Regions from separate parts of the Homo sapiens genome. Here region 1 is linked to region 2. The links come from fine-mapping of genetic effects on gene expression. A gene starts in region 2. The other region holds a variant in brackets. All regions are shown on one strand. Distances are between the middles of the regions.

Region 1 (2,910 bases), 35 kb before region 2:
GAGTCCTAAAATCTGTCCCTGTCCCAATGACTGGTGCCTAGAATGCTTCATAAAAGTGAGAGTCCAGCCCCAGAGGTCAGGGAGTCTGAAGTTTCAAAGACTACACAGGGGATAATGTTGCAGATGAGGCCGGGCCCCTGTGTGAGCTGTGCCCACTGTGTGCAGCTTTGTGAGCTCTCCAGGAAACTGGGAGGATTAGGGTTTTGTATGTGAATCACATACTTCATTAAGGACTGATTCCAGTATAGGGCTCTAGCCATTTCTGATTGGTTTCTGATGGACAGAGGCTGCCTCTGAGACTCAGCAGGGCGTGGGGTGGCTGTGGCAAGAATGTGTGATTTTAGGGAGGCCGCCAGCAGATTCTCTCTCCAGATCTCTTACTTGTCTGTTTCAAGGATTTGACTTGAGATGTATTTTGAGATATATTGTTGCGGGGTGGCTGGGGGCCTGGGGGTGTCAGCAGGCAAAGGAATGTTCCCTTGGATGCTTCCACTGTTGCTGTTAGCAGTCACAGCAGCTCTCACAGCGGGCGCTGTTCTAAACCCTTAGCAGCCGTCCTCCCATAGCCCTGCAGGATGGTGGAGAGACAGGTGCCATTCTCTTTTTTTTTAAGATGAAGTAGGTCGGGAGCTGTGGCTCATGCCTGTAATCCCAGCCCTTTGGGAAGTTAAGGCAGGCAGATGGCTTGAGCCCAGGAGTTTGAGACTAGCCTGGGCAACACAGGGAGACCCTGTCCCTAGCTAAATAAATAAATAAGCTGGGTGTGGTGGTGCATGCCTGTAGTCCCAGCTAAGTGGGAGGCTGAGACGGGAGGATCACTTGAGCCCAGGAGGTCGAGGCGAGCCGTGATCACATCACTGCACTCAGAGCAAGACCCTGTCTCAGAAAAAATGTAAAAAAAGATGAAGAAGCTGAACTTCATGGAGGTCTGCTTAGGGATCCACATCTCAGATGCTCTTGGTCAATGTCAATAGGTTTAGTGGGACCCTGGAGGAAGACATTAGAACATGGTGGGGGCTGGGTTTAGCTGGACAGTGCCTGCCTCATCCGCTGGGGGTCACTGTGACTCAGCTCCCACTGATTCTGGACACAGGACACTGTGGCCCAGTGTGACCTTAGCTGACAATTTTTCAAAAGTAACTGGACGTATAACCTTGTGTAGAAATGCCATCATCCGGCAGGGCGCGGTGGCTCACACCTGTAATCCTAGCACTTTGGGAGGCTGAGG[C/A]GGGTGGATCACGAGGTCAGGAGTTCGAGATCTGCCTGGCCAACATGAGGAAACCCTTTCTCTACTAGAAATACAAAAATTAGCGTGGTGGTGCATGCTTGTAATCCCAGCTACTTGGGAAGCTAAGGCACAAGAATCGCTTGAACCCAGGAGGTGAAGGTTGTAGTGAGCCAAGATCATGCCACTGCACTCCAGCCTGGGCGACACAGTGAGACTCCATCTAAAAAATATACATATATGTGTATATATATGTGTGTGTGTATATATATGTATATACATGTATATATATACGTATATATGTGTACATATATACGCATATATATGTATATATTATATATATACATATATACACATATATACACATATACACATATATACGTATATATACACACACATATATATGTGTATGTGTGTATATGTATATATGAAAGAAATGTCATAATCCATAAATGTTGGCAAACAATTTTTTCAAATGAGCCAAACACTGTGTAGGACTGGGTGAGGTGGTGTGCAATTTTAGTCTCAGCTGCTAGGGAGGTTGAAGCGGGAGGATCACTTGAGGCCAGTAGTTTGAGGCTACACTGAGCTGCAATCACGCAGGTGAATAGTGACTGCACTCCAGCCTGGGCGACACAGTGAGACCTCATCTCAAAAACAAAAACAGAACAAAGCACTGTACAGGGCAAGCAAGTAGGTTCAAGAGTCAACTTTAGTCCACAAGGTGCTGGTTTGAAACAGTATTAGTCTGTTTTCACATTGCTATAAGGAAATACCTGAGACTTGGTAATTTATAAAGGAAAGAGGTTTAATTGACTCAGTTCCGCATGGTGGGGAGGCCTCAGGAAACTTACAATCATGGCGGAAGGCACCTCTTCACAGGGCAGCAGGAGAGAGAATGAGTGCCAGCAGGGGAAATGCCAGATGCTTATAAAACCATCAGATCTCGTGAGTACTCACTATCACTAGAACAGCATGGGGGAAACCGCCCCCACGATTCGATTACCTCCCACCAGGTCCCTCCAATGACACATGGGGATTATGGGGATTACAATTCAGGATGAGATTTGGGGCTGGGCGAAGTGGCTTACGCCTGTAATCCCAGCACTTTGGGAGGCCGAACTCCAGAGGTCAGGAGTTTGCGAGCAGCCTGGCCAACACAGTGAAACCCTGTCTCTACTAAAAGTACAAAATTAGCCAGGTGTGGTGGCGCACACCTGCAATCCCAGCTACTCGGGAGACTGAGGCATGAGAATTGCTTGAACCCAGGGGGCAGAGGTTGCAGTGAGCTGAGATCATGCCACTGCACTCCAGCCTGGGCAACAGAGCGAGACTCTGTCTCAAAAAAAAAAAAAAAAAAAAAGATCTCGTATTCATTCTGCAGGCACTGGCGTGCCCACCGTAGGAGTCAGGGTGGAGGAGACAGACCCGATGCAGGGTCTCAGGGCGCTCACAGTCAATGTCAACAGTGTGGCCCATGTTCTGAGGGGCACCCTTCCTCGGGGTATGACACAACACTTCCCATAGGAGGAGGAGGAAGTCTGTTGGATGTTGTGTTTGGTTTCTGGGGCTGCTGTGATCAAGTGCCGCAACCCGGTGGCTTACAGCAACCCAGCTGTATTCTCTCACAGTTCTTGAGGCTGGAAGTCTAAAATCAAGCTGTCAGCAGGGCCCGTGCTCCCTCT
Region 2 (2,910 bases):
TCAGCTCTGGCAGCCTCATCAAGATGACTGAATTCCTACTTCAGCTCCCTTGCCTAGCACCTGAGATGGCCAATGGGGCTGAAGCACTGCCATGACCCCAGCACTTGGCCAGCACTGTGCTACGTTGCTGGTCACAGCTGGGCCATCTGCCACTTTGTGAGCTCATCATCAGTCCCAAGTGGAACTAGACTCACAGACCTAGATTGCTGACCCCTGCCTGGTTTAGCACAGCTCCAGATTGCAGAATTCCACAGCTATATTGCGAAGGCTGAGCCTCCTCTGCATACTGACAGTGCCTCAACTCCACCCAGGTTCTCCACACCTCTCGGCAATCTCAGGTCACCTTGGGACCAGGTTCACAGCACTGCCTTCCTCTCCTGCCCTGCCAGCCTGAGGTGTGATACTGACCGTGCGCCACATTGCTGATGCAATCGATGTATTCTGCCCCCTGTTCATCGTACATGTACTGCCCTTGGGCCCGGACAATCTTAACAGGATCCTCGGGAAAAAAGAGTCTGCAGGAAGAGCTGTGGGGACAGGCAAGGAGTGGACAGCCATGTCTGAAGACCGAAAGGGTGAAGTCTACTCATCGCAGACCCCCGCCCACCCCTTCCCAGTTTCTGGTGGCGGGGGGGAAATGAGAGCTGGAAGGGCAAGGTGCTGCTTCCCTGCCTTGTCTCTCCACTCCACAGGTGGTTGCAAAGCAGGAAGCAGATGGGGTAACAAGTCGCTGAAACTTCGGATTGTTTCTGAAAGCATTTTCAGCCTCTGTGGCCTCCTTGCTCATTTCTGCATGTGTCCGCGTCAGTCTCCCGGATCCTGAGAAAAGGTGGCTGCCCCGTCCCATGGGGACTCCATAAGGCCGCGTGTCTTCGATGGGATGGGCCAGGGCACCAACATTAGGTGCCTGGCTCTCAGCCCTAAACAGCTCCTTGCCAGCCACGTGGCCCTGCTGCCCCTCGCTGGGTGCCAGCCCTAAGCTCCAGTGGGAGGCGACCTCACCCACCGTCCCACCGAGGGCCCCCTCACAGGTCAAGTGTGCTGCCTGTGAACCGACTCCCCCGACTCTCCCTTGTCTGCCCTTTCAGCCCCCTCCCAGGTCACTCTCGAGCCAGGCCCAGGTGCTGCTGACGGGCCACCCTGGGTGAGGTCCTCTCAGGCGCCAGGGTGAAGGTCTTCTCCGGAGTAAAGGCTGCCAAGCGAGGCTGACACAGCCGAACAGCGGTGAGGGCGGGGCCGTCTCCTGAACTGGGCGGCCTGGAGACGGCGCTGTCGGGGAGGCGGCCCCGGAGACCACCCGCCGGGACTGCCCAACGGCGCCGCCCGCCTCGGGCCCTAGAAGCTCCAGCGGGGCCGGGGCAGCGGCCGGACGGGATGGGTAGCAGCGGCTTCCTAGCCGGAGGCGCGTGCGTAGTGCGTGCGTGCGTGCGTCGTGCGTGCGCGTGCCTCTCCGCGCAGCCCCGCGCCCCCCGCCGCCCGCCCCCCGCCCGGGTACCTGATGAGCCGTTGCCTCAGGGCCAGCGTGTCGGCCTTCGGGCGCTGGTCTGCGGCCATGGTGGGTGGCCGTCAGTCGGTGCCGTGACGCCACGCGGAGACGTCGCCGCGCGGGCTGGGCCTCCAAGGCCCCGCTCCGGGCCCCGCCCCTGCCTGGGTCGGGATTTGGGGCTCAGGTTCGCACTCGGCCCCGCCCCGAAGCGCCCGCGTTGCGGTGGTTCATTTCTTCGCTTGCCCACTGGGCCTGGCAGCCTTCCGGCCCGTGGTCGTGCCTTGGCAGTCCCGCGCAGGAACTCGAGCGCTGCCCCGTCTCTGGTTCCGGGACGCGCCCCGGGCCTCGCCCCGCAGGCCCCGCCCCGCAGGCCCCTGCGGCCTCCCTTCCGGGAAAGGGTCCCGGACGACCCCGCCCCTGCTCCCGGCGCCCAGGCGGGGCTCGGAGCTCCTGCAGGCCTTCTCTGGGCCAGACTCAGTCTTTGAGTCGCCTTGTGCATAAAATGGGATGAACTGTGAGGCCTAAGTGCGAGTATGTGACTGGTACCTTACCCGGGCCTGGTACACAGTAGGGGCCTCAGGGTGGGAGAAGCAGGTCCTAGGTTTTCCCAGCCCCATGAAGGGGCAGCAGGAAGAGCAGAAGGAGAGCCCAGGGTCCCTTCTGGGGCTGACCAAGGAGATCACCATGGGCTTGACCTTCAGGGCACCATAGTTCCTGCTAGAATCTAGGCAGGGTGAACCGGACGAGCTGTATCGTCGCTGAGAGAATCATGCAGCGTTTGGGCAAGAAGAGAGGTTGGGAATCCTCCTTGTGGTACATGTCGGTGACCCTGAAGCCCAGAAAGGGAAAGGGTTTTGTTGTCAGACACGCAGCAAGGCTGCAGAGGCTGGACTCCTACTGAGGTCTTCTTGACTCCCAGCCCAGGGAGTGAGAAGAAAAAGCCTCCCAAGGGGCTGGGATATGAGAGAAAAGCCCCCTCCTGGGGTGAGGCACTGGGGCTTTCTGCCTTGAAGAACCCTGGAACACGGGCCTGGGACTGCAGCAGGTGCAGGGGAGGCTCCTGATTGTCCCTTCTTTCTGTCCACATCATGATTCCCAGGCCTCTGCTTCACTCCCTCATTGCTGATTTCTTCTTCTCTTCCCAATACAGTTGTAAGATGCATAAGGCATTTATTGAACTCTTGACCTCAGATGATCTGCCTGCCTCGGCCTCCCAGAGTGCTGGGATTACAGGCCGGGTGAGCCACCGCACCCGGCCGCTTAAGGCATTTATTAAAGAACATTTGGAGTTTCTTTTTTCTTTATTGTGTAAAATATACATAACAAAATTTTACCATTTTAACCATTTTTAAGGATACAATTCAGTGGCAAAAGTACATTCACATCGTCGTGCAGCCATCACCACCATCCATGCAACAGGACTT

What was found.
Region 1: its variant is fine-mapped to the expression of PHYKPL in left ventricle (GTEx, PIP above 0.99).

The regions. Positions count from the first base shown.
Region 1 is chr5:178,196,113-178,199,022 of GRCh38, forward strand. No RefSeq gene overlaps it. Among named protein-coding and RNA genes, the nearest start is that of HNRNPAB, 7.0 kb to the right of the region's middle. The variant C/A (reference allele first, on the strand shown) is at 1,229.
Region 2 is chr5:178,230,997-178,233,906 of GRCh38, forward strand. It overlaps PHYKPL (5-phosphohydroxy-L-lysine phospho-lyase), which reads right to left and starts at 1,806. Exons shown (of 13, transcript NM_153373.4): 1 at 1,496-1,806; 2 at 409-527. The coding sequence starts at 1,554. RefSeq lists silencers at 1,231-1,550, 1,631-2,040 and an enhancer at 1,430-1,968.